Linked DNA regions of Homo sapiens: all the other regions are reported to be linked to region 1. The links are microRNA targets in miRTarBase. Many come from high-throughput screens and were not tested one by one. Region 1 holds a microRNA gene; each other region holds the end of a gene's coding sequence. Distances are between the middles of the regions.
Evidence for each region. Region 1 holds the annotated microRNA hsa-miR-1295b-3p (AAUAGGCCACGGAUCUGGGCAA, at 2,175-2,196, opposite strand). A microRNA usually pairs through its seed, bases 2 to 8, with sites in the 3' UTR of a target mRNA and lowers its output. Matches are read on the target gene's strand: a 7mer-m8 pairs with bases 2 to 8, a 7mer-A1 pairs with bases 2 to 7 and ends in A, and an 8mer does both.

Region 2: miRTarBase lists CLCN6 as a target of hsa-miR-1295b-3p. Seed matches in the 3' UTR shown: 7mer-m8 at 1,538-1,544.
Region 3: the mRNA of MOB1A is a reported target of hsa-miR-1295b-3p. Seed matches in the 3' UTR shown: 8mer at 3,859-3,866.
Region 4: miRTarBase lists WRN as a target of hsa-miR-1295b-3p. Seed matches in the 3' UTR shown: 7mer-A1 at 3,042-3,048.

Annotation. Positions count from the first base shown.
Region 1 is chr1:171,096,851-171,103,972 of GRCh38, reverse strand. It overlaps MIR1295B (microRNA 1295b), which reads right to left and starts at 2,234; the gene lies at 2,175-2,234. FMO3 (flavin containing dimethylaniline monoxygenase 3) reads right to left here. Exons shown (of 9, transcript NM_001002294.3): 3 at 1-188. It overlaps MIR1295A (microRNA 1295a), which reads left to right and starts at 2,167; the gene lies at 2,167-2,245.
Region 2 is chr1:11,839,694-11,846,815 of GRCh38, forward strand. It overlaps CLCN6 (chloride voltage-gated channel 6), which reads left to right. Exons shown (of 23, transcript NM_001286.5): 23 at 450-3,437. The coding sequence ends at 530. NPPA (natriuretic peptide A) reads right to left here. Exons shown (of 3, transcript NM_006172.4): 3 at 6,016-6,321. The coding sequence ends at 6,316. It also overlaps NPPA-AS1. Among named protein-coding and RNA genes, the nearest start is that of NPPA, 4.5 kb to the right of the region's middle.
Region 3 is chr2:74,150,620-74,157,741 of GRCh38, reverse strand. It overlaps MOB1A (MOB kinase activator 1A), which reads left to right. Exons shown (of 6, transcript NM_018221.5): 6 at 1,097-5,214. The coding sequence ends at 1,174. BOLA3-DT (BOLA3 divergent transcript) reads right to left here. Exons shown (of 3, transcript NR_045636.1): 3 at 5,353-7,122. Among named protein-coding and RNA genes, the nearest start is that of BOLA3-DT, 6.2 kb to the right of the region's middle.
Region 4 is chr8:31,172,267-31,179,388 of GRCh38, forward strand. It overlaps WRN (WRN RecQ like helicase), which reads left to right. Exons shown (of 35, transcript NM_000553.6): 35 at 729-3,872. The coding sequence ends at 836. LOC105379358 (a long non-coding RNA gene) reads left to right here and starts at 4,809. Exons shown (of 2, transcript XR_007060884.1): 1 at 4,809-5,367; 2 at 5,822-7,122. RefSeq lists an enhancer at 1-982.

The DNA of each region.
Region 1 (7,122 bases):
TTAAATTGTATGTACTTCAGGAGGTTCTTTTCTTTGGCAAATGCAATGATATATTCCTGGATCTTGCTGTTGTGCATAAAGTTGGGGAAGTCATCGGGAAATGGGAAGTCTGGGAAACACATCATCTCTTTGGAAGAGTTGGAAAAGACTGATTTGTAAATGCTAGCCCTGCCCTCCTCTGCATGGTCCTGTGAATGTATAGTATCAAATGGAAGCGAATTGGTAAATGAGTATACTGATCATGGTCAGGGCTGGTTCCAAGTAATTACAGTCATCCCTTGGTATCTATGGAAGGTTCCAGGACCTCCGTGGTTACCAAAATCTACGAATGCTCAAGTCTCTTACATAAAATGATATAGTATTTTCGTATAACCTATATACAGATACTTTAAATCATCTCTAGGTTACTTATAATACCTAATGCAATGTAAATGCTTAATGAATAGTTGTAGTGTATTGTTTTTTGATTTTGATTTTGATTTTTTATTTTTATTTTTGGATTTTTTAAATCAATGGTGGGTTGAATCTGTGGATGCAGAACTTGCAAAAACAGATGGCCAAGTGTATACTTATTTGAGTCATCCTTTATCCACAGTAAATTCGGTAAGACACACATAAATTAACTTCACTTCAACAATTGATGCTAATCATGGAAACTTACTAAGGGAACTTAGGATATGGAAGAATACCTTTCTTAATATCTTTTAAGAAAATATATCTTAATCTTTTCTAAGGGAAACAAATTTTAAATTTCATTATGTCCTTTAGGCCTATGTAACTAGAATCCTTTCATTCCCTTGAACCATTAAATATGGTGACAGAGATTTTTCAAAATTCAACCTTGCATAATTTCAATGTGTCAACTCATGAGCACAAGCATCTAATGGTCAATTTATAAAAGCAAACAGTAACAAGAGGTTGCAACTATTGATCAGATTTGTAAATGTAAGCATTTTAAGACCTAATTTTTAAAAAATTAACCTTAGAATTTCTATAATGTATAAAATAAGGTTAACTATTTTGAATCTAACACAGAATTTATGGGCATTGCATGCCTTTTAAGCACTTATGTAAGTAACAAAGTTTTAGCTTTCAATGATGTAAAAATATCTGAATTTTCTTTAACTCTAAGGAATTATAGAACTATGCTAATAAAGCCTTAGAGGAAATGTTAAGTGATGATGAATAAAGAAAAAGAACATTGAAGAAAGAATGATCAGTAATGAGAAGTTTAGGATATTGTGTTGTGGTTCTTTAGCCACACACTGAAATAAACTGGGAGCTTTAAAAAACACACTGAGCATTAGGTCCCACTCTCAGAGAATTTGATTTAATTGACAGCAAGTTTTAAAAGCTCTTCAGGTAATTTTAAGGTGCAGCCAAGTTTGTCAGTCACAATGTAGAGTTCAACAAATGGAAGCTCATGACCAACAGGCTACAGTTACTGTGGAAGAGCTTACCATAGGACACATCTGTTACAGCTGTGAGCTCTGCAAAGCAAGCTGTTGAATGAATAAAAGGCATTAAGTTAAAAAAAAATACTGGTTGGAGCATGATTAGGAAGAGGTGGAGCCTTGGTTTAGCTCTGTTGAAGCATCAAGGTACTTATATCTCAAGTTTCATGATGAAAGATCAGATTGTAGATCTCTATGTGTAGTTGCTAGTTCATAGTGGAAAGTACTGAGCACTAGAAACTTCTAATTAGAGCTCATCTAACTGAAAGTTGTCAGGGCTCCCAGAACATGAAATTTTAGTATAATATTGGAATATTACAATCACGTCAAAAGCCAATGTGGCTGCAGTTTCATTATTGACAAATAATTAATTGGCAGATTAGTTGCCATGTTCATTTCAGAAAGCAGCGTGTTCTTTAAATAGGACATGAGTTTTCTGCTGCTCACATGGTTTGTTGACTCTGCTATAGGCATGTGGGATGGGGAAGTGCAAAAATTTGTAGCTTTCTGTGAGTTGGGTAAGTTTAAAGAGATGATAATCAGCATAAAGAGAGAAGAAACATTAAAGAAAAAAATTGATACATAGTCCAGAAAAAAATCAGAGGAAGTTAAAAAAGGGAGGTATTCCCAGAAGAAAGCCACTATTCATAAAACTTCATGCAAAAATTCATATGATTTACTGATTTATTGTTTGGGGAGCTCCTGAGAAAAGAGGACATTTTGCCCAGATCCGTGGCCTATTCAGAAATGTGGCCTGTGATTAGGCCGCAGATCTGGGTGAAATGTCCTCCTTCTGTGACCAAAGAAGGTGAGGGAAATACATCATCGTGGCTCTAGATCAGGGTTAGAAGTCAGAACTAGAAGGGCATAGAAAGTGCTGTAGTAAACAGCTCCAACAGTTTCAACTATATGCACCCTTAGTGTTAGCTAAGTTTTAACCAATGTTTGGATCTCTCTGAAATTTAAAAAAAGTTAAGATAATGTAAAATGATGATGTTAGAAACCAAAGGGAAGGCAAATACAAAATTAGAACAATTTTATAACAATCTTATAATGTGAATACTAAGCCTATTGCTGCAGACTTCTAGTGATCTGAGAAACACTGCTGTTTGCTCCATCATTTGCAATCTATAAGCCCCCTCACAGTAGTAAAATAGGAAACGCTGAAAAACCAAAGGTATTAGTTTCTTGTGGCTGCTGTAATAAATTACCACAAAGTTAATGGCTTAAAATAATAGCAATTGATTCACAGTTCTAGAAGTCAGCAGTCGGGAATCACTATCAGTAGGCTGAAAACGAAGTGTGACAGTACCATGTTCATTTTCAGAGGCTCCAGGAGAGAATCCATTCCTTGCCGCTTCTGGCTTCTGGTGGATGCTGGCATTTCTTATTTTTTTCAGTGGCAAGACCCCTCTTGTACGCCTTCACTCATGGCTCCTCTGGCCATCATCAAAGATAGAGCATAGCATCTTCAAATTTCTCTCTTTCTGTTGAGGTCATCACATCACCTTCTCTCTTCTCTTTGTGTTAAATCTCCCTCTGCCTCTCTCTTTTAACGATGCATTCATTATAGCGTTTGGGGCTCACCCACATAATGCAGAAAAATCTCTCCATCTTAAGATTTTTAACTTAATTATATTTGCAAATACCCTTTTCTCTTGTAAGTAAGATAACATTTACAGGTTCCAGGAATTTGGATGTGATATCTTTGAGGAGGGGCATTGTTAAATTGTTCAGCCTATTACAGGCCATCCTCTGGTTCCCAAGGATTCACATCCATCCCATCTGCAAAATACATTAACCCAATCCCAACATCCTCAAAGTCTCAACCCATAGCAGCATGAAATCAAGTCTCAACTCTCATTTATATATTTTCAATTCAAAAGTCCAAAATCTCATCATCATATAAATTATCTAAATCAGGTATAAATGAGACTCTGGATATGGACCAGGATGAGGCAAAATTTCTATCTGTGAACCTGTGAAACTAGAAAACAAGTTATCTTCTTCCAAAATACAATGGTGGGACAAGCATGGGTAACCGTTATCGACATTCCCATTTAACCGGGGAGGAAAAAGGAGGAAAGAAAAGAATCACTAATCCCAAGCAATTTTGAAATCCAGTAGGACAAATTCCTTCAGGCTTGAAGGCTTTGGCTCAGGCCTCTGCCCTCAGGGCCTGAGGCTCTACCCTCTGGGCTATCCTTTCTTTTTCTTGAAGGGTAGCACATGTTGCAGTTCAGTTTTATCAACCTATGCTGCCAGGTTCAAATTTTAAAGTCTTCCTCGAGCAGCAAGAAAAGACAAATTAGCTGTCTTTGGCTGTGTTCCTCTCAATAGCCATATCAGCAGTGCGTTCTATCTTCAGCAACGTCTTGCAAACTAAATTTGAGTATGAGGCTTTGGTTAAGATCACTGTGTATAAGATATGGCTGGCCAGGAGTGGTGGCTCATGCCTATAATTCCAGCACTTTGGGAGGCCGAGGCGGGTGTATCACCTGATGTCAGGAGTTCGAGACCAGCCTGGCCAACATGGCGAAACCCCATCTCTACTAAAAATACAAAAATTAGCGGGGCGTGATGGCACACACCTGTAATCCCAACTATTCGGGAGGCTGAGGCAGGAGAATCCCTTGATCCCAGGAGGTGGAGGTTGTAGTGAGCTCAGATTGTGCCATTGCACTCCAGCCTGGGCAACAAGAGAGAAACTCTGTCTAAAAAAAAAGAAGAAGAAAAAAGAAAAAAAAAAAAAAAAAAAAGAAAGACATGGTCAGCTCGATAGGCCACTTGGTGAAATGGCAACCAGCAATTTACAAAGGAGTTAAGAATAGACTAGAGAGAAAGGCAAGCTTGAATTGGGATCTTTTCTCCACCATTATCAGCTGTATGATTTTTTTTCTTTTCTTTTAAAGCTTCAAATTCATTTGTAAAAGGAAAAAAAATATACCTAGCTTATAGGATTACTATAAATATTTAATTAAATAGAAAAAGTCATGTGTCATATAGAAAGTGCTTGATAAAATAGCCCTAAGTTTGGCCACAAAGAAACAAAAATAACAACAACCAAAAAGCCCTAAGAATCACCAGTGTGTTAATCTGAAGCCCTGTCAACACATTTTAATAACATACAGTAGGCTCCACAACATTGTATAAGATGTTGGGGGGTTTCACACCACACCTAATCCAAAATTGACCACATAGTTGGAAGTAAAGCACTCCTCAGCAAATGTAAAAGAACAGAAATTATAACAAACTGTCTCTCAGACCACAGTGCAATCAAACTAGAACTCAGGATTAAGAAACTCATTCAAAACCGCTCAACTACGTGGAAACTGAACAACCTTCTCCTGAATGACTACTGGGTACATAATGAAATGAAGGCGGAAATAAAGATGTTCTTTGAAACCAACGAGAACAAAGACACAGCATACCAGAATCTCTGGGACACATTTAAAGCAGTGTGTAGAGGGAAATTGATAGCACTAAATGCCCACAAGAGAAAGCAGGAAAGATCTAAAATTGACACCCTAACATCACAATTAAAAGAACTAGAGAAGATATATCTCAAAATAATAAGAGCTGTTTATGACAAACCCACAGCCAATATCATACTGAATGGGCAAAAACTGGAGGCATTCCCTCTGAAAACTGGCACAAGACAGGGATGCCCTCTCACACCACTCCTATTCAACATAGTGTTGGAAGTTCTGGCCAGGGAAATCAGGCAGGAGAAAGAAATAAAGCATGTTCAATTAGGAAAAGAGGAAGTCAAATTGTCCTTGTTTGCAGATGACATGATTGTATATCTAGAAAACCCCATCGTCTCAGCCCAAAATCTCCTTAAGCTGATAAGCTACTTCAGCAAAATCTCAGGATAGAAAATCAGTGTGCAAAAATCACAAGCATTCTTATACCCCAATAACAGACAAACAAAGAGCCAAATCATGAGTGAACTCCCATTCACAATTGCTTCAAAGAGAATAAAATACCTAGGAATCCAACTTACAAGGGATGTGAAAGACCTCTTCAAGGAGAACTACAAACCACTGCTCAACAAAATGAAAGAGGACACAAACAAATGGAAGAACATTCCATGCTCATGGATAGGAAGAATCAATATTGTGAAAATGGCCATACTGCCCAAGGTAATTTATAGATTCAATGCCATCCCCATCAAGCTACCAATGACTTTCTTCACATAATTGAAAAAACTACTTTAAAGTTCATATGGAACCAAAAAAGAGCCCGCATTGCCAAGTCAATCCTAAGCCAAAAGAATAAAGCTGGAGGCATCACACTACCTGACTTCAAACTATACTACAAGGCTACAGTAACCAAAACAGCATGGTACTGGTACCAAAACAGAGATATAAACCAGTGGAACAGAACAGAGCCCTCAGAAATAATACCACACATCTACAACTATCTGATCTTTGACAAACCTGACAAAAACAAGAAATGGGGAAAGGATGCCCTATTTAACAAATGGTGCTGGGAAAACTGGCTAGCCATATGTAGAAAGCTGAAACTGGATCCCTTACTTACACCTTATACAAAAATTAATTCAAATGGATTAAAGACTTAAATGTTAGACCTAAAACCATAAAAAACCTAGAAGAAAACCTAGGCATTACCATTCAGGACATAGGCACGGGCAAGGACTTCATGTCTAAAATACCAAAAGCAATGGCAACAAAAGCCAAAATTGACAAATGGGATCTAATTAAACTAAAGAGCTTCTGCACAGCAAAAGAAACTACCATCAGAGTGAACAGGCAACCCATAAAATGGGAGAAAATTTTCGCAACCTACTCATCTGACAAAGGGCTAATATCTAGAATCTACAATGAACTCAAACAAATTTACAAGAAAAAAACAAACAACCCCATCAAAAAGTGGGTGAAGGACATGAGCAGACAGTTCTCAAAAGAAGACATTTATGCAGCCAAAAAACACATGAAAAAATGCTCACCATCACTGACCATCAGAGAAATGCAAATCAAAACCAAAATGAGATATCATCTCACACCAGTTAGAATGGCAGTCATTAAAAAGTCAGGAAACAACAGGTGCTGGAGAGGATGTGGAGAAATAGGAACACTTTTACACTGTTGGTGGGACTGTAAACTAGTTCAACCATTGTGGAAGTCAGTGTGGCGATTCCTCAGGGATCTAGAACTAGAAATACCATTTGACCCAGCCATCCCATTACTGGGTATATACCCAAAGGACTATAAATCATGCTGCTATAAAGACACATGCACACGTATGTTTATTGCAGCACTATTCTCAATAGCAAAGACTTGGAACCAACCCAAATGTCCAACAATGATAGACTGGATTAAGAAAATGTGGCACATATACACCATGGAATACTATGCAGCCATAAAAAATGATGAGTTCATGTCCTTTGTAGGGACATGGATGAAGCTGGAAACCATCATTCTCAGCAAACTATCACAAGGACAAAAAACCAAACACCACATGTTCTCACTCATAGATGGGAATTGAACAATGAGAACACTTGGACACAGGAAGGGGAATATCACACACTGGGGCCTGTTGTGGGGCGGGGGGAGTGGGGAGGGATAGCATTAGGAGATATACCTAATGCTAAATGACAAGTTAATGGGTGCCGCACACCAACATGGCACATGTATACATATGT
Region 2 (7,122 bases), 160 Mb from region 1:
ATGACGTGGCTTTGGAGTTCCCAACAACAGTGACACGTGGGAACCACTGTAACGACCTGTAACAAATGACTCCCATAGGTCACTTTGCAAGGTGGTGAGTATGAGGCATGGCAGGGGTCATAATCTCAGGAGACTTCAAGGGCCCCACCGCTTGCACATCTGTGAAGCAGGCTGGTCATGATGGGAGCTGAGCGCTGAGCATGTGCCCTGTGGAAGGACATTTTAGTTCAGATGCCAGCTGGCCCAAGCCCTTTTTGGAGCTAACCTTGTCCCCTTGGCCTCCAGTGTGTGAGCCCTCGTTAGCTGTTTATCCCAATCAAGCTGTGTCTGGCTGTGCACTATCCAGGCCTCCACATTCTGTGACAAACTAACAGGGCCGGCTCCTGTCACTCCTGTTCTCGCCAGCGGGTTTTACCCTGAAGGTGACTCAGGCCTTCTCTTTGCCCTAGATCGTGGGGATCATCACACGGCACAACCTCACCTATGAATTTCTGCAGGCCCGGCTGAGGCAGCACTACCAGACCATCTGACAGCCCAGCCCACCCTCTCCTGGTGCTGCCTGGGGAGGCAAATCATGCTCACTCCGGCGGGCACAGCTGGCTGGGGCTGTTCCGGGGCATGGAAGATTCCCAGTCACCCACTCACTCAGAAAGCCGGGAGTCATCGGACACCTTGCTGGTCAGAGGTCCTGGGGGTGGTTTTGAACCATCAGAGCTTGGACTTTTCTGACTTCCCCAGCAAGGATCTTCCCACTTCCTGCTCCCTGTGTTCCCACCCTCCAGTGTTGGCACAGGCCCACCCCTGGCTCCACCAGAGCCAGAAGCAGAGGTAGAATCAGGCGGGCCCCGGGCTGCACTCCGAGCAGTGTTCCTGGCCATCTTTGCTACTTTCCTAGAGAACCCGGCTGTTGCCTTAAATGTGTGAGAGGGACTTGGCCAAGGCAAAAGCTGGGGAGATGCCAGTGACAACATACAGTTCATGACTAGGTTTAGGAATTGGGCACTGAGAAAATTCTCAATATTTCAGAGAGTCCTTCCCTTATTTGGGACTCTTAACACGGTATCCTCGCTAGTTGGTTTTAAGGGAAACACTCTGCTCCTGGGTGTGAGCAGAGGCTCTGGTCTTGCCCTGTGGTTTGACTCTCCTTAGAACCACCGCCCACCAGAAACATAAAGGATTAAAATCACACTAATAACCCCTGGATGGTCAATCTGATAATAGGATCAGATTTACGTCTACCCTAATTCTTAACATTGCAGCTTTCTCTCCATCTGCAGATTATTCCCAGTCTCCCAGTAACACGTTTCTACCCAGATCCTTTTTCATTTCCTTAAGTTTTGATCTCCGTCTTCCTGATGAAGCAGGCAGAGCTCAGAGGATCTTGGCATCACCCACCAAAGTTAGCTGAAAGCAGGGCACTCCTGGATAAAGCAGCTTCACTCAACTCTGGGGAATGCTACCATTTTTTTTCCAAAGTAGAAAGGAAGCACTTCTGAGCCAGTGACCACTGAAAGGTATGTGCTATGATAAAGCAGATGGCCTATTTGAGGAAGAGGGTGTCTGCCCTTCACAAACACCTCTCTCTCCCCTGCACTAGCTGTCCCAAGCTTACATACAGAGGCCCTTCAGGAGGGCCTCCTGTGCCGCAGGGAGGGTGCGTGGGGAAGATGCTTCCTGCCAGCACGTGCCTGAAGGTTTCACATGAAGCATGGGAAGCGCACCCTGTCGTTCAGTGACGTCATTCTTCTCCAGGCTGGCCCGCCCCCTCTGACTAGGCACCCAAAGTGAGCATCTGGGCATTGGGCATTCATGCTTATCTTCCCCCACCTTCTACATGGTATTAGTCCCAGCAGGCATCCCTGGGGCAGACGTGCTTTGGCTCAAGATGGCCTTCATTTACGTTTAGTTTTTTTTAAAACCGTGGAGGTTGCCCACGGGCCTCGGCACCTGGCCCTGGCAGCACAGCTCTCAGGCCCAGCCCTGGGCGACCTCCTTGGCCAAGTCTGCCTTTCACCCTGGGGTGAGCATCAGTCCTGGCTCTGCTGGTCCAGATCTTGCGCTCAGCACACTCTAGGGAATAATTCCACTCCAGAGATGGGGCTGCTTCAAGGTCTTTTCTAGCTGATTGTGGCCCCTCCATTTTCCCCATTTTCTTATCTCCCTGACCAAAATTGCTTTGACTTCTAAATGTTTCTGCTTCCCAGAATGCACCTGACTTATGAAATGGGGATAATACTCCCAGGAAATAGCGCAGGACATCACAAGGACCAAAAAGGCAATTCTTATTTAAATGTTACTATTTGGCCAGCTGCTGCTGTGTTTTATGGCAGTGTTCAGAGCTTGATCACGTTATTTCTTCCTTTTATTAAGAAGGAAGCCAATTGTCCAAGTCAGGAGAATGGTGTGATCACCTGTCACAGACACTTTGTCCCCTCTCCCCGCCCCTTCCTGGAGCTGGCAGAGCTAACGCCCTGCAGGAGGACCCCGGCCTCTCGAGGGCTGGATCAGCAGCCGCCTGCCCTGAGGCTGCCCCGGTGAATGTTATTGGAATTCATCCCTCGTGCACATCCTGTTGTGTTTAAGTCACCAGATATTTTGTTCCCATCAGTTTAGCCCAGAGATAGACAGTAGAATGCAAATACCTCCCTCCCCTAAACTGACTGGACGGCTGCCAAGGAGGCCCCAAACCCAGGCCCCATGCAAAGGCACGTGGTTTCCTTTTCTCCTCTCTCTGCATCTGCGCTTTCCAGATAAGCCCAAAGACAGCAACTTCTCCACTCATGACAAATCAACTGTGACCCTCGCTCCTTCCATTTCTGTCCATTAGAAACCAGCCTTTTCAGCATCTCACCCATTAGCAGCCCCATCACCCAGTGATCAGTCGCCTCAGTAAAGCAGATCTGTGGATGGGGAGCCTACGGGTGGTAAGAAGTGGTGTTTTGTGTTTCATCTCCAGCTTGGTGTTCCATGGCCCCTAGGCGAGGTGATCAGGGAGTGGGGCCAATGGGCCCCCGGCCCTGGCTTTGGGACCTTGTGCTGAGGGATGATTTGCTCCTGACCTTGATTAACTTAACAGTTCCCAGCTGGAAGGGACACTTTCAGGACCCAGTCCACTGTATGGCATTTGTGATGCAGAATTATGCACTGACATGACCCTGGGTGACAGGAAAGCCTTTCGAGAGGCCCAAGGTGGCCTCGCCAGCCCTGCAGTATTGATGTGCAGTATTGCACCACAGCTCTGCGGACCTTGGCCATTGCCGCAGTCGCAGCTTCCTTTTTTCTGTTTGCACTGTTTGTTTGTATGATGTTAGCTAATTCCACTGTGTATATAAATTGTATTTTTTTTAATTTGTAAAATGCTATTTTTATTTGAACCTTTGGAACTTGGGAGTTCTCATTGTAACCCTAACATGTGAGAATAAAATGTCTTCTGTCTCCTCTGTCTCCTTTAGCCTTTTGTCTCCATGCTGCTTTCTTTCTTTCTTTCTTTTTTTGAGACAGAGTCTCGCTGTCACCCAGGCTGGAGTGCAGTGGTGCCATCTCAGCTCACTGCAAGCTCCGCCTCCCAGGTTCACGCCATTCTCCTGCCTCAGCCTCCCGAGTGGCTGGGACTACAGGCGCCCACCACCATGCCTGGCTAATTTTTTGTATTTTTGGTAGAGATGGGGTTTCACCATGTTAGCCAGGATGGTCTCAATCTCCTGACCTGGTGATCCTACCCGCCTCGGCCTCCCAAAGTGCTGGGATTACAGGCGTGAGCCACCACGCCCGGCCCTGCTGCTCTTTCTTTCAAGGGATACTTGCTTTTTATTTTACTCCCCCTCTTTCTGATGTGTGGAAATTACACTAGGACGTAGTTTTAGAGTCTCAGAGCTCTCCCTATGCAGCTGGGCAGTGGGGCTCTTCATTCTTGCGGGTCCACTTCTCTGTATTAGACAGTGACCTTAATAAGAACAGATTTCATCCTGTGGATCTTAGCAGAGGTCACCGTTGTCTGTTTCTCCCTTCAGATGAACACTCTTCCTGATCCTCTCCTCTAGAATTCATCTCCTCCTGCTAGCAGCCGCGTCCTGGAGGAGCAGCGGATGGGGAATCCATTCTGTTTCTTCCTGGTGTTTAGGAAGTTGCCCCACACACAGATTGCCCCGATGTCCAACCAGAAGAAGTGAAACTGCTGCTGGGTCTGGAGAGGTGAAGACCCGTGGCCAGCTTCTGTTGTTGCCATCGGCCATTGCTTTTTGTTCGCTTGCTTTTGGTTTTGCAAGAAGAGCGGCCTCTGTCTCTGATCTGCTTCAAATCATCATTCCATCAGTGACAGAAGTGGCTGTTCCATCAGTGGTCGCAGCCAGTTCAGCTCCTGCATCCATCCCCAAGTGTTCTGTAAGTCCCAGGGGCATTTTCTGCCTTGTGTTTTTGTCATTTTTCAATCAGTTTCATTCAATGAGAACTCCCTGTGTTACCTGTGTTACGGTGACACCTTGAGAATGGGCTACTTCCCCTCCTAGCAACCCGCAACACCATCCCAGACCTCAGGAGCCAGGTTTGGGCCAGTGCTGTCTCCTGTCGCTCTTACTTTCATCCTTGTCATTCTCTACCCCCTGGTTTTCCTGGTATTTAAAGTCCAGGTAGAGAAGATTTTGACTGGAGGTGGTTAGGTGAGGCTCTCCCCCCACCTCAACCCCCTGCCATTAGTTCACTGGGAGCCTCCCCCTTTCCTCCGCAAGGAGCAAGTTACTACTTCATTTCCTCTTTTCCCAATTTCTGGACAAGACCAAGGCAATTTGACCAACATTTATGGGGCATCAACTCTGAGAGTGCTGAAGGGGCATTTGCCCTCAAAGAGCTTGCAGTCTAGGGACGTAGACACAAGCAATTGCACATAGGCAACTCGTGTTGTGTGCTATTATAACAGTTACATGTGCAACACTGCCTACGAAGGGACTCATTGTTACTAGGCATGAGGTACCAGGAAAGAAGTAGTGTTCATATGAGCCTTAAGAAATCAGTACAATGTCCTCGGGAGGACCAGAGGAAGGACACCCCAGGTGGAAGGAACAGCAGAAATAAAGGCACAGTGGCATGTGTGGGTGTGGGGTGTTGGAGTGTCATAGAATCTGATGAGGTTGGGATCCATGGGGGTAACAGGTGGGAAAACAGTTTACTCTGTTTAAGGTGAACTTATTGCCTGGTGTTTTGTGCTCAGAGCAAATACCCTCTTCAGGAGCAGATACAAAAAGCCGGCATCTTCTCCAGCAGCTCTTAGTAAAATACAAGCCCAGGCCCTTCAGACCCGGATTAGGCAAAGACTATGTCTGTTTTCCAAATACTTGTTAGTACACAAAAGGCACATGAACTTGTAGTTTGTCTGCATGGCAAACCTTTCTTCACTTTGCTCAGTTTTTATTTTTTTGAGACAAGTCTCATTCTGTCACCCAGGCTGGAATGCAGTGGCACAATACCAGCTCACTGCAGCCTCCACCTCCCAGGCTCAAGCCATCCTCCCACTTCGGCCTCCTGAATAGCTGGAACTACAGGTGCACATCATCATGCCTGGCTAATTTTTAAATTTTTTGTAGAGATGGGGTCTCACTCTATTGCTCAGGCTGGTCTTGAACTCCTGGGCTCAAGTGATTTGCCCACCTTGGCCTCCCAAAATGCTGGGATTACAGGAGTGAGCCACCACACCCGGCCTGCTCAGCTTTTAAATTCAACACTCTGCCTACTCTTTTCAAAACTAAAAGTACCATTACCTTAGCTGTAGAACCTAACTCTCTCGAAATGTACCAGAGAAAATCTAATTAATACTCTCATTTTCTGAATGTTCCCCCCTAAAAACAACAAAAACCCCACTAGGAGTGGAATTTGAGGCCTCCCCAACCACCTACCAAAAAAGGAGGGTGAAATGAAAGGAAGAAGAAAAACTCAGCATTCTTTCCTCTGACAAAGAGTAAAACGACAAGGAATATCGGCCTGAATTCTCTTCCCAAGAAGAAAGAAAGCACACCAACGCAGGCATTTGTCTTCTGTCCATGGTGCTGAAGTTTATTCACTTTCAAACCACTTTCAGTAACAGGTGAGGTTCTACCTTAAAATTTAATGCATGGGGTGGGAGAGGCGAGGAAGTCACCATCAAACCACTTTATCTACAGTTAGCATAAGATGTGAGAAGTGTTGACAGGAAGCTGCAGCTTAGATGGGATGATCACAACTCCATGGCAACAAGATGACACAAATGCAGCAGAGACCCCAGGGGACAGGAGCCTCTTGCAGTCTGTCCCTAGGCCCAGCCCTGCTTGTCCTCCCTGGCTGTTATCTTCAGTACTGCAAAGAGAACACAGACATATCTGGCTTGGTGACCTGGCTGTCCTGGAAAAGTCAGCTTCATGTATGAGTGTGCCCATCCTCTGAACTTGATTACTGACCACCTGCTTCCCACCGGCCCCCACCCCAGCCTGATGACCCTCTGAGCTTCATGAATTGATAAGCAAGTTACTCATCAGAGTAAATTTCACTTAAGCCCTTCAGGATCTTGCAATTCTGGGGAGGAATATGAACTGCTAATCAGCCATGCAAAGATAACTTGGCTCTATGAATATTTTAATTTCCCAGTGCTAGTGGCAGTTGCTTTTTTTTTTTTTTTTTTTGAGACGGAGTCTTGCTCTGTCGCCCAGGCTGGAGTGCAGTGGTGCCATCTCTGCTCACTGCAAGCTCCGCCTCCCGGGTTCACGCCATTCTCCTGCCTCAGCCTCCGGAGTAGCTAGGACTTACAGGCGCCTGCCACCACGCCTGGCTAATTTTTTGTATTTTTAGTAGAGACGGGGTTTCACCGTGTTAGCCAGGATGGTCTCCATCTCCTGACCTCGTGATCCACCCGCCTTGGCCTCCCAAAGCGCTGGGATTACAGGCGTGAGCCACCGTGCCTGGCCTTTTTTTTTTTTTTTTGAGACAGTCTCGCTCTATCACCTAGGCTGGACTGCAGTGGCGTGATCTCTGCTCACTGCAACCTCTGCCTCCTGGGTTCAAGTGATTCTCCTGCCTCAGCCTCCCAAGTAGCTGAGAGTACAGGTGCCCGCCACCACACCCAGCTAATTTTTGTATTTTTAGTAGAGCTGGGGTTTCACC
Region 3 (7,122 bases), not on the chromosome of region 1:
CTCACCACACAGAACGCTTCTGTGACCAAACATGGGGACTGTCCCTCACACACCAAGCAAGTGATCATTTCTACAGTGGACACCAGATGAATGTCCTATAATTTGATTCAATTTTGATAATGTCTATCTGGAGGTAGCATCAGATCCTACAAGTTTGAGAGCTCAGTCCCACAAGACTGCCCCCCATTTGGGATATCAATCAAAAGTAATACATTGTCACCTATACCTCTGACTATAAACCAGGGTTCCCACAACCCCCTCCTTGGGTTTGATTAGTTTGCTAGAGCCGCTTATAGAACTCAGGGAAATACTTATCTCTACCTGTTTATTATGAAAGATGTTAACAAAAGATACAGATGAACAGCCAGATGGAAGAGATGTGTAGGGCCAAAGGAGAAGGGGCTTCCATGCTCTCTCCAGGCATGCCATGCTCCAGGAACCTCCACGTGTTCAGCTATCTGGAAGCTCTCCTGAGCCCTGTTTTTTGTGTTTTTATGGAGGCTTCATTACTTGCCCATGATTGATTAAATAATTGGCCATTGATGATCAACTCAACCTTCAGCCAGCCCTTTCCCCTCCCCAGAGGCTGTGATCTGGGAAGGGGAGAGGGCTGGCTGAAGGTTGACCAGTTCCCATCCTGAAGCTTTATAGGAGCCTCCAGCCACCAGTCATCTCATTAGCATACAAGATACTCTTAGCACTCTGGTGATTCCAACAAGGGTTTTAGGAGCTGTGTGTAAAGAAAAAGGAAGACCAAATACTTATATCACAATATCATACCTATATTTTTAAAAAGAGAGGGCTGGACGTGGTGGCTTACCCCTGTAATCCTAGCACTTTGGGATTTGGGATGCCAAGGTGGGCAGATCACTTGAGGCCAAAGTTCAGTACCAGCCTTGGCAACATAGACCACATCTGTACAAAAAAGAAAAAAAAAAGAAAAAGAATAAATGCCTACTTTAAAATGTTCACAGAGGTTATTTCATCATTCTTTTGGACTTCAGAAAACTAGAGTTGGGAATCCCTTCTCCAAAAGACATTTACAGAGTTTCAGTTTTAGATCCATTTTTAATTGTTATTTTTCTTCTCTTTTTAGGAGTTTAATCTGATTGATAGGCGTGAGCTGGCACCTCTTCAAGAATTAATAGAGAAACTTGGATCAAAAGACAGATAAATGTTTCTTCTAGAACACAGTTACCCCCTTGCTTCATCTATTGCTAGAACTATCTCATTGCTATCTGTTATAGACTAGTGATACAAACTTTAAGAAAACAGGATAAAAAGATACCCATTGCCTGTGTCTACTGATAAAATTATCCCAAAGGTAGGTTGGTGTGATAGTTTCCGAGTAAGACCTTAAGGACACAGCCAAATCTTAAGTACTGTGTGACCACTCTTGTTGTTATCACATAGTCATACTTGGTTGTAATATGTGATGGTTAACCTGTAGCTTATAAATTTACTTATTATTCTTTTACTCATTTACTCAGTCATTTCTTTACAAGAAAATGATTGAATCTGTTTTAGGTGACAGCACAATGGACATTAAGAATTTCCATCAATAATTTATGAATAAGTTTCCAGAACAAATTTCCTAATAACACAATCAGATTGGTTTTATTCTTTTATTTTACGAATAAAAAATGTATTTTTCAGTATCCTTGAGATTTAGAACATCTGTGTCACTTCAGATAACATTTTAGTTTCAAGTTTGTATGGTAGTGTTTTTATAGATAAGATACGTCTATTTTTTCAAAATTCATGATTGCAGTTTAAATCATCATATGACGTGTGGGTGGGAGCAACCAAAGTTATTTTTACAGGGACTTTATTTTTTGATCTTTATTTGAGATTGTTTTCATATCTATCTAAATTATTAGGAGTGTGTGTATCAGAAGTAATTTTTTAATGTCTTCTAAGGATGGTCTTCCAGGCTTTTAAACTGAAAAGCTTAATTCAGATAGTAGCTTTTGGCTGAGAAAAGGAATCCAAAATATTAATAAATTTAGATCTCAAAACCACTATTTTTATTATTTCATTATTTTTCAGAGGCCTTAAAATTCTGGATAAGAGAATGGAGGAAAATACTCAGAGTACTTGATTATTTTATTTCCTTTTATTAAAAAATTACTTCTATGTTTTTATTGTCTCTTGAGCCTTAGTTAAGAGTAGTGTAGAAATGCATGAACTTCATCCTAATAAGGATAAAACTTAAGGAAAACCACAATAAACCATGAAGGTGTACACATCTTATAACACAGATAAAGTTTTGGTGTGCTACCTATTCTTGAGAGAGTGAGTGAGTGTATGTGTTTAAAGGAAACAAAATGGGAGAAATAAGTTTTAAAAAAATCCTCATTTTGTTAATATTCAAAAGATGGACTGAGCTTCCACTTGGGTTTTATCTTGTTTTAATTGTTTTTGTATCAAAACTTGAAATTCCTCTATTTCTATTGGGATATAAAAGCCTTCCCCTTCAGTGAAGAAAACATTTATTTTTTATTTGATTCCTAGGATTTAGTAAACTCTAGCTGTCTATTTAAAATGTACTGAGGCACAACAAGTATTATACTGGAAGACTTGCCAAACTGGCAAAGCTTTAAGTTCATCAGCATTCTATGTGGTTCAGAGCTGTGATTTTTGCAAAGTATTTTACCAACCTCCTCGATGGCTTTGATAAAGGTTAGATTTGATGTTTTTTTTTAGATTTATTTTTCTTACTCCACTAAACTATAAAGAAAATAATTACTTAGAAACTCCATTTTAAATAATCATTTCCTAGAAATTCTTAAATATATACAGAATTTTAAAGAAAACATTTCATCTGATTTAGTTAGCATCCACATATCATTGAGGAATTAAAGTGTGGGACAGTCATTATTAAAAAAAAGAGAGAAAAGCCCTCTATTAGACATTCCACAATCCATGTTTTAAGCTTATCCAAAGGTCCAAATGTCAGCCATTCTGTATGTTCATGTTGATCATTTGCGAACAAGAAAGCAGGTTTCTAGGTATCACTTAGGATGTGAACTGCCTCTCAACTTTAAACCCTGTTAGCTTTACTTTTTTAAGTCCACAAGTGATGAAACTAGTTTCTCAGCTAGGCTTGTACTTTCCTCATTATTTCTAGTATTTCAAATATTCTCAAACAAAAGAGTTACCACTTTTCTCCATTTATTTTCAGTTATGGAAATGTTCCCTCTCTTCACCACTAAGCTCCAAAGCAAATGAAAGACGATCACATGTCAGGACAGTAGTAAAGGCAGCTTATAAATGGGACATAAATCAGAGATGTGTTGGTATTTTGAGACTCAAGACTGTCCTTTTTTAAAATAAAAATAAAAACATTACCAGGTTCCCAAGCCAATCTGGCTTAACCAACAGTGCACTGAAATATTAGTGTTTACCTCCAAGGCTAGGGAGCCAAGGGGAGGAGGAGAATTGGAGGAAGGGGAGATAATGGGAAGAGGATGGCGCCTTCCTGAGTTGGCTAGAGGGCCAACCTTTGATAACAGTTTGACGAAATCAATCTTTTTTTTTTTTTTTTTTGAGACAGAGTCTCACTCTGTCACCCAGGCTGGAGTACAGTGGTGGGATCTCGGCTCACTGCAAGCTCTGCCTCCCAGGTTCATGCCATTCTCCTGCCCCAGCCTCTCCTGAGTAGCTGGAACTACAGGTGCCCGCCACCACGCCCAGCTAATTTTTTCTATTTTTAGTCATGCCTGGCTAATTTTTTGTATTTTTAGTAGAGATGGGGTTTCACCGTGTTAGCCAGGATGGTCTCCATCTCCTTACCTCGCAATCCGCCCGCCTCAGCCTCCCAAAGTGTTGGGATTACAGGCATGAGCCACCGTGCCCGGCCTATAGAAATCAATCTTTTTGACTCTTCTCACTTTTATCTCCCCATGCCCAAGGTTTGCCTGTTCCATAACACTCACTCCCTTCCCCCTTGCTAATCAGAAGCCATCTCCTCTCAGTGTCTGATCTCTGCTCTTCATACATGATTACAGTCATGGGGTAGAGAGTGCTTGCTAAATTATGCAGTTAATCCTATGGTGCTTTAATTTTCAGGCCTTCAAAAAACACTTGTACAGTGATGTGCAGATTTTTAAACAGTTGAACTTCCTTGTACTACAGTTTTTGTATTGACAGCCAAATTTGTCTTTCATTCTTCAGATTGTGAATAAAGTGATTTTTACAGGGCTTCCAGCAAAGTTTTTCCTTTCATCTAAGGCTTGTAGAACCCTAGCTTATATAGCTGCTTACATGAGAAATGCAAAATCTGTATTCACCATGACTTTAGTAACAAAGGTAAAGTTTTTTAGTAGTGCCAAGGCAAGAGGAACAATCTTGGTGGTAGTACTAAGTTTTGTCAATATTGTGGTTTCCTGATTGTATTGTTGGCTTTCTCTCTGAGCATTGAGGTATACTAGAAGTAGAGCTTCTCAAACATAATATCATTACCTCATAAGCATTAACAAATCAGGCCCAAAGAGCGTAAGTCCTAGAAATTTGTTTTAAAGCAGCCCTAGTCATGGTGCTGGTGCTACCGCCTTGTTTTAGGAGCCTGCCTCCTGTCAGTATGAAACCCTCACCTGAAAAATGCCAGCCTGGACACCAAACACTGAGCCCCTTCAACAGGCACATTATTTCCCCCTGAGATCCATAAGGGAATTTAGTTTCTACTATTGTAGAGTTCTGAAAAGAGGTAAAATAGTAGTCCTTTGGTCATCCTATTTTTGCTTTCAATTTTGATATTTCAGACTGTAAAAGGCCTTGGGGGATGATAGTACATGTGGTAGCAGTAATTTTTTTGAAGCAACTGCACTGACATTCATTTGAGTTTTCTCTCATTATCAGATTCTGTTCCAAACAAGTATTCTGTAGATCCAAATGGATTACCAGTGTGCTACAGACTTCTTATTATAGAACAGCATTCTATTCTACATCAAAAATAGTTTGTGTAAGTTAGTTTTGGTTACCATCTAAAATATTTTTAAATGTTCTTTACATAAAAATTTATGTTGTGTTTTAAAATCCTTAGGGGCTTTATCTATTTTTCTAAGTCAGTTAACTGTACTTCTAAAAAAAGTATTTTGTATCTACTTTTGTAACTTCGTCAGAATAAAATATATTGAAAGCAAGAAATGACTGATTAAAGTATGTATATCAACACACATTTCTATTTAAATATAGAAACTTGAGAGTTTTGCAGATTCTGTGGATTTTTGAGTACAGCTTAAATTTGGAAAGTTATCTTTGCATATCATTTAGTAGCTAAAATGTTTTCTTAGCCGTTAAAAAAGGAAGTTCCTAAATGAACTAAGTATCATACTACTGGGACCGAACCCCTAAGAAACAAACTATGTCTCTGATAGTGGCTAAAACCCATCCCAAACAAAAATACGTGGTCTCCTTCCTGCCATGCAAATCAGGCTCCAGATCTCTTGTACATTCCTGGTTGTGCGATAGTAGAGTTAAAATTAAAAACTTAATGAATGTGGCTAAACAGTACAAGTTAACACTAATTTTATTTTTTTGAGCTGGGGTCTCTGTTGCCCAGGTTGGAGTGCAGTGGCACAGTCTTGGCTCACTGCAACCTCCGCCTCCCAGGCTCAAGTGATCCTTCTTTCTGAGCCTTCTAGTAGCGGGGACAACAGGCACACACCATCATGTCCGGCTAATTTTTTGTATTTTTTGTAAATATGGAGTTTTGCCATGTTGCCCAGGCTGGTCTCGAACTCCTGAGCTCAAGCAATCTGCCTGCCCCGGCCCCAAAGTGCTGGGATTACAGGTGTGAGCCACCACACCTGGCCTAGTTACTAGCAATCAGTTTTGGATTTCTTTTGACATTTTCAGTAGACTTAAAATCAATCACAAAAATGATAAGTTTGTAAGGGTATCTAATGGCTATTTCAAACTTTGTAAAATAATAGAATAACTCAGATAATCTTTGGGAGAGCCAGACTCTGGGTTTGAACCTGCACAGCCAGAAACAATGTCCAAACTATGCCATGGAGCTTCTCTGACAAATACCCCATTGATGTCCCCACTAGGTATGGACATTACAGCCTGCACTGTCCCCACTTAGGTGTGGACACTAGTCTGCACCTTTATCGCTGGCCACTAGATGCCAGTCTGCCACAACACCTCAAAAGCTAGCTACCTTTTTAGCTTTTTACTGGAGTCCTTTAGTAGGTTATCTCATTTAATCCATAAAGCAACCTGGAGAAAGTGACTGCAATTAAGAGGTATGCCAGAAATATTTCAGTATTCTTTAGACCATGCCACATAAGCTCAGACAAGTTCAAATAGCTAGTATATAGCAAGTCTGTTTCTCTGGATTGCATTTGCAAAAATTCTGCATGCTCAGCAGTGCTAGGAAGCTCTATAAAATGATGGTGCAACGAAAAATCATCCCAATGAGGTTAAAAAAGGAGATGCATCCAAAGAGTTCCTACCTAATGAATTTTCTGAGTTTCAGATGTATATATGTGTATGAAAGCTATGAGTGATCATGGACCAATACAACTGAAGAGAACAAGAGAATCTCGAGGTCACAGCAAAAAAAAGTAAGATGCAGAAAGGATTGACATTTCCTGGGACTAAATGCATTTCACTTTTGTTTTAATCACAAAGTAAAACTTACTTATTTGCTTCTGTCAAAAAAAAAAAAAAATACTAGAACTGTTGGAACTAATTTGGAAGCCCAAGATTCGTCAGATCGTCCTGCAAATCCTTTTCTAGAAAAGTTCAAACTTAGACCTATGGAGCGCAAATTGCTGAGCCTCTATCAGTTCTGTTCAGTAATTACAATGCATGCACTTTTTGTCCCATATTGGGCTGCTGACAGATGACTCAAGCAAGGCTCTGTCCTCAGGGAGCTTATAAACCAGTGAGAACAGACACATACATAAATTGATAGTTGTAAAAGGCCATAAGTGCAACAAAAGTTACAGGTAAGTTGCGGGCCCTAAGCTTACTGTGAGGCAGTCAGAGGTGGCTCTTTGGAGAAGACAAGGCTTGAACCTTAAAAGGTGGGCAACTGCATAACCAAACTTGTAGCATAGCTTATGAAGGGAGGTGCAAGTATAATATTACTGAAGGGTAGATTTCAGTTGG
Region 4 (7,122 bases), not on the chromosome of region 1:
CAAAGTGTTGGGATTGCAGGCGTGAGCCACCTCACCCAGCCTTAAATTATTTTTTTTTCAAGGATGTTTAACCTGAGGGTTAGAGGCTCTTTGGCACGTGAGCTGCTGAAATGTGTGTGAAAGTGTTGTGCACGTGTATGTTTCTCTTTTTTTCTGGGAAGTGGATCTGTAGTGATTCTTAGATGAGTCTATGAGACAAGAAACTTTTATTTTTTTCATTTATTTAGCGAATGTTTGTTAAGCGTACTATGCCTTGGCCACTCTACAGGGTGCTGATTGGACCAGTCTGTCTACCTACCGTTGTAGATGTTAGAAGCTATATTCTTTTCACATGCCTAATATAACTCTTTGTGTATGTATACATGCCCAGGCATGTTCCTTCCTCAGAACATTAAATTCACCATTTTGGTCAACTCAAAGCAAGTACACCATGGGACACAGATCTGAAATAATGTCCAGATTTTTACTTACTGAATGAGGTGTGTTGAGTGTATAAGACTACATGATGAGATGGCAAGTAATTGCCTGAAGAAATGATGTAGTGATTTTGTGTGTCTTATATTTATTTACTTTTTGATCCAGAAATAAATTATATAGATACCACTATTTTGTTTGGATGGGGGAGAAAGGATGGGTGTGTATTCAGGAACTTATGTTACTTTTTTGCAACTAATACCCCTTCTCAGTAGTACAAAGATTTGATTTCTTTTTCTTTCTATTTCCTACAGACTTCATCTGCAGAGAGAAAGAGACGATTACCTGTGTGGTTTGCCAAAGGAAGTGATACCAGCAAGAAATTAATGGACAAAACGAAAAGGGGAGGTCTTTTTAGTTAAGCTGGCAATTACCAGAACAATTATGTTTCTTGCTGTATTATAAGAGGATAGCTATATTTTATTTCTGAAGAGTAAGGAGTAGTATTTTGGCTTAAAAATCATTCTAATTACAAAGTTCACTGTTTATTGAAGAACTGGCATCTTAAATCAGCCTTCCGCAATTCATGTAGTTTCTGGGTCTTCTGGGAGCCTACGTGAGTACATCACCTAACAGAATATTAAATTAGACTTCCTGTAAGATTGCTTTAAGAAACTGTTACTGTCCTGTTTTCTAATCTCTTTATTAAAACAGTGTATTTGGAAAATGTTATGTGCTCTGATTTGATATAGATAACAGATTAGTAGTTACATGGTAATTATGTGATATAAAATATTCATATATTATCAAAATTCTGTTTTGTAAATGTAAGAAAGCATAGTTATTTTACAAATTGTTTTTACTGTCTTTTGAAGAAGTTCTTAAATACGTTGTTAAATGGTATTAGTTGACCAGGGCAGTGAAAATGAAACCGCATTTTGGGTGCCATTAAATAGGGAAAAAACATGTAAAAAATGTAAAATGGAGACCAATTGCACTAGGCAAGTGTATATTTTGTATTTTATATACAATTTCTATTATTTTTCAAGTAATAAAACAATGTTTTTCATACTGAATATTATATATATATTTTTTAGCTTTCATTTACTTAATTATTTTAAGTACCTTTATTTTTCCAGGATGTCAGAATTTGATTCTAATCTCTCTTATGTAGCACATGTGACTTAATTTAAAACCTATACTGTGACACAGAGTTGGGTAAACGATGATTATTTAACTTTAAGCAGTTCACCATCCATTTCAAAGCCTTTGATTGGCTTTTTTGTAAATAAAAATAACTTGTTAAGAAACAAATATATCTGTCATAGAAGAACTAGAAAATCCAGGGAAGTGAGAAAAATGAAAATAAAAATCATTCATAGTTTTACTAGTAGCTAATCACAGTCAACCTCTTTTGTGTATCCCACCAGACTTTTTTATATTCATTTGTTTTTAGTTAAAATATAAAAGTCTCGTATATTCCCATTTTTCTGCATTGCATTACCAGAAGGTAGTGGCGCCTATTAAATATGTGATATGTTGTTGTCCAGCCATGGCTTCTGCATTTGCATGCTTTTGTGTGTGCATCTGCAATACCCTGTGAATATCCTGTGTGATGGAGTGGCAAGTACGCACAGACACGTCTGCTGCATGCCTAGGTACGAGGCTGTCTCCAGGAGAAGCACTTGTTTGATTATTTGAGTTGCCAATTGAATTTGCTGCTTTTTTTCATGGCTTGCCATTTTCACTGAAAAGAATGACTAATGAAAAACGATGATTGGTTATTAGATTTGGATGTTTGGCAGACATTTTCTCAAAATTGAACTAAGTTGGCCTCTTCACGGAAAACAACTGGTATTTGTTGTGCCAATGATAAAATTGGAGATTTCTAGCAAAATGTATAATTTTGGAAAAGTTGTGTTCCTCCACTGGAAGCTTGACAGCTTTCCTTAACATAAAGACTTCTCTTTCTCTTCGCTTTCACTACTACTACTACTAATTCTTCTTCTGATTCTTCTTCTTCTCCTTCTTCCTTCTTCCTTCCTTCCTCCTCCTCCTCCTTCTTCTTCCTCTTCCTCTTCTTCTTTCTCTCTTTCCTTCCTTCCCTTCCCTTCCCCTTCCTTCCTTCCTTCCTTCCTTCCTCCCTCCCTCCCTCCCTCCCTCCCTCCCTCCTTTCTTTTTCTTTCTCTTTCTTTCTTTCTTTCTCTCTCTCTCTCTCTTTCTTTCTTTTTCTTTCTCTTTTTCTTTCTTTCAAGCAGTCCTCCCGCCTCAGTCCCCCAAAATAGTGGGATTACAGGTGTGAGCCACCATGCACAGCCTTACATAAAGCCTTTTCTAATGAGATGGATAGTAATTAACAAATGTGAGTTTTTGATATTATATAAAGATTTTTTCTGTGTTTCGAAGATCCGTATAACTCAGTGAATCAGTATGTTCTGGATGACTAATATGTGATGTTAAGAAATCATGACTGAGGCCGGGCGCGGTGGCTCACGCCTGTAATCCCAGCACTTTGGGAGGCCGAGGCGGGCGGATCACGAGATCAGGAGATCGAGACCACCCTGGCCAACATGGTGAAACCCCGTCTCTACTAAAAATACAAAAATTAGCTGGGTGTGTTGGTGCGTGCCTATAATCCCAGCTACTCGGGAGGCTGAGGCAGGAGAATCGCTTGAACTCAGGAGGCGGAGATTGCAGTGAGCTGAGACTGCGCCACTGCACCCCAGCCTGGCGACAGAGCAAGACTCCGTCTCAAAAATAAAAAAAGAAATCATGACTGGGTAAAAGATCTGTTCAGAGTACAAGATGGACCAATGGATTTGATATATTTGAATATAACAGAGTATGAAAAAGTTTATTGATATAGTTTCAGATTACACACTGCAACTAATCTTTAAGAAACTATTACTTGTCCACTTTTTGGTAAAATTTCAGAGAACAATGTCCACCATTATCTGAACAGGCTATTAAAATACTCTTCTCTTTTCCAACTACGTGCCTGTGCAAAGTCAGATTTTTTTCATATACTTCAGCCAAAACAGCATATCAAAATGGATTGAATGCAGAAGTAGATCTGAGAATACAGCCACTTTTGTTAAGCCAGACAATGAGATTTGCAAAATGTAAACAATGCTGCTGTTCTCAGTTTTTAAAAATATGTTTTTTAAAAGTATTTATGTTAATGTGTACTTGGTTTACTACTGCTATTTTTAAATAAAACAAGAAACATTTTTAAATGTCTGTTTTAATTTCTAAAGTGGTAGTGATAGATATAACCCATATTAATAAAAGCTCTTTGGGGTCCTCAGTGATTTTTTTTTAAGAGTATGGAAGGGTTCTCAGACCTAAGAGATTGAGAAATGCTGATGTAATGTTTTATTATAAAGGTGTACCATGAATTATGTACCTTACTTCATATTGTTGGACATTAAAGTTGCTTTCAGTTTTTTTGTTTTAAACAGCACTGCTTTGACCTTTTTTAAAAAATGAGTCAGGGTCTTGCTGTGTTGCCCAGGTTGGAGTGCAGTGGCTATTCACAGACATGATCATAGCATGCTATAGCCTTGAATTCCTGGGCTCATGTGATACTTCTGCTTCAGCCTCCTGAGTAGCTGGGACTATAGGCGTGCACCACTATGCCCAGCTGCTTTGAACATTCTTGAAATGAAATATGGTATAGTCTCATACCATATCATAGCCAGAGGGGGAGAGAGAGAATTTTGTTGTTGTTGTTATGTTATCTGTAGTGGACTTTATGCCTTCCCAGCATAAATTCTCTCTTTCCCCATTTTTCGTGACTCTTGATTTTTGTTGGGGTTCGTTCCAAGGAGAATAATTTCCATCTGGATATTGGATTGGCACCTGTGACCTCTTCTGAGCTAGACCCTAGTAACAGCGTTTGGATCTGGGGTAGGTGTGTGGCCAACTGAGCTGCTGGTTCATGCCTTTCCTGAAATGAGCCCTACCTCTGAATATTTCAGAAACATGGGACATTAACTTCCCTTTACTTACGTTAAACCCCTTTGAATGAGGAGTTGTTTTTCACTTCCAGTTGTGTTCAGTTGTCACAGAAGCACAGCGATGTGATTGGTGGAAGGACCCGTCAACAGACCCAGAAGATGTAAAGTGTTTTTAATCTCAAAGGATGTGGAATCTCAGAGATAGTTACACCGAGTAGAGGATGAAGCGGCTCCTGGATGGAGGCAGAGGCTTCCTGGATCTTCAAGTTCTGTATGGGTTGTTGTATGAGGTTGGTGCAAAAGTGAGGCAGGAGAATAGGGTCTGGAGGCAAGGAAACTAAGGCCGATTCACACTGACTTCCTAGAACTAAATCAAAAGGAAAACCCCAATTTTCCAGACCTAAATAACAAAAGTACCAGATGGCTCCTCCCTTTCAACTGCCCCTCCCCCACACCTTTCTGCGTGGCACATGGAAAATTGAAAGTATCTCTGGTTGCTTCTGCGTAGGAATGTAACTTTGTAACCAATCAGACGGATCGCAGGCCAAGTCGCCTGCATAGAAATGTAACTTTGTAACTTCACTTTAGCCTCTGATTGGTTGCTTTCCACAACCAATCAGATGCTTGCATAGGGTGTACCTGTTGTGACTTCACAAAGTGGTGGAAGTGGTGGAAGTGGTGGAAGGGTGGAAGGGCTATTTAAATTTTTATTCATCCTCTGATTGGTTGTTTCACTTAAGCCTCTAATTGGTTCTTGAGTCCTGGAGCCTGTGAAGGGTACTTTATTTTCAGTAAATGCATGCTTTTTTTGCTTCATTCTTTCCTTGCTTTGTGCATTTTGTTCAGTTCTTAGTTCAAGACACCAAGAGCCTGGACACCCTCCACTGGTAACAAAAGTAACTGGTGTTTTTGCCATTAGAAGTAATGGCACAGAACAAGTACATGAGAGCGATTTCTTATGGAAAATTAAATGGCGCATAAGTCGTGTGCTCAGGTAAGGGAGCTGGGAACCGGTAGAGGAAGGTCTCCAACCCACACCCGTGGGATCTCTGAGTCTTTGAAAGTCCGTCCTCACCCTTTGTGAAGAATGGGAGCACGGCTGGACTCGTCACCGGGGGTTTTGGGGGGCTGAACTTGTCATTTGAGGGTGTAGGGAGGTTGGATGAATCGCAGGGGTGCAGGGAGGGGGCCCACTGGAGCTCCACCAGGACCCCAGCACCCTAGATCCAAACCTGGTCATGCTTCCCATGCTCAGAGGCAAATCTCCCTCCCCTTGGGGGGCGGAGTCAGACGAGACCCCCTCTCCATCCTTTTCCAGGTCCGGCGGGGGCGGGACTTTAAAGGTAAAAACAGCAATTACTTTTGCACCAACTTATCTTCTAAGTTTCGCTCCCTACCACCTGAGTGTGTTTGGAGGCTCTGGCTCATTGTACCTGCCTGATCACCAGGTGCAAGTAGCTGGGCCAGAAGGACCTCGGCACGTTACGGAATATTTACTACAGGAACAGGTGAGCTGAAGGCGAATTCCCCAGGTGTAGCCTGTGACCATAGATTCAGACAAAGCCCTGACTGTTGCCTGGAATTCAAAAAAGCTGTAGCCCTACCAGATAGAATAAGAAAAGAATATAGGATTCTTCCTATTCAAATAGGTTGCATATAATTAAGAGCATGAACGATCCAATGGAATGAACTCAAAGTAGTTTTTGAGTGTAATAGACTTGAAGTGTCTTATGGAAAAGAATTGCAAAACCACAGAAACAGTGAAGAAGGTTAGTTATAGCCTTGATGGGGTAGCTGACTTCAGCAGTCTCAGCTATCTGAAAAGTTATTTACCAGATTTTGGTTGGGAACATAATCCCTAAATCATTTGAGATAATGTACTTGTTTCCTTACTGGGTAAATGTGTTTAAACCTTGAGAAAATGTAGACATAAGTAGAATATAGAATAAATTAAACCTTTGGTAGTTATGTTTTAGGATTAAGGACTAATAAGTACATATTTGATATTTAAGCATTTGTAATGCTTGAGATAATTTATCCTACTCAAGTAACAGATTACTCTTGTGACTCCAATGTAAAATATATCATTGAAAAATTAGTATCTGCTTGTGATTTTTAAGTAGAAACCCTGCCATTTGAAAGGTATTTGCCTTTATTATTGGAGATATTTCATATGAATGTTTAACTTTGTTATTGCATAGAAGTATTTAAACAGATTTCACTTGCAAGAGAAAGATATCTAATAGGTTACTCTTAATCAGTACTAAATTACTACAATTACTATATTCTATTAATATCGATTCATTAAAACCCAGAGCTTTAATTATGTCTCAGAAAATTAATTAAACTTTAGCCTCATAATCAGCTTTATTTTCTAACTCAATGTTTAAAAATTGACAAGTATGTATTATACTTATTTATGTCTTCATTCAGTAAACATTTGCATTTGTAGCATGCAAGACAACATGCTAGACACACGAAAGATGGAATAAATGGAAGAAAATGCAACACAGATCTCATGCTTAAGAGGGACAGATTTACTCTGAAGATTCAATGAAAAAACATCCACAAACAACTTTTCTACAAGAAACAAAACATTTTAAAGAAAACATTTACTTCAGCCGGGCGCGGTGGCTTACGCCTGTAATCCCAGCACTTTGGGAGGGCGAGGCGGGTGCATCACGAGGTCAGAAGTTCGAAACCAGACTGGCCAGTATGGTGAAACTGTGTCTCTACTAAAAATACAAAA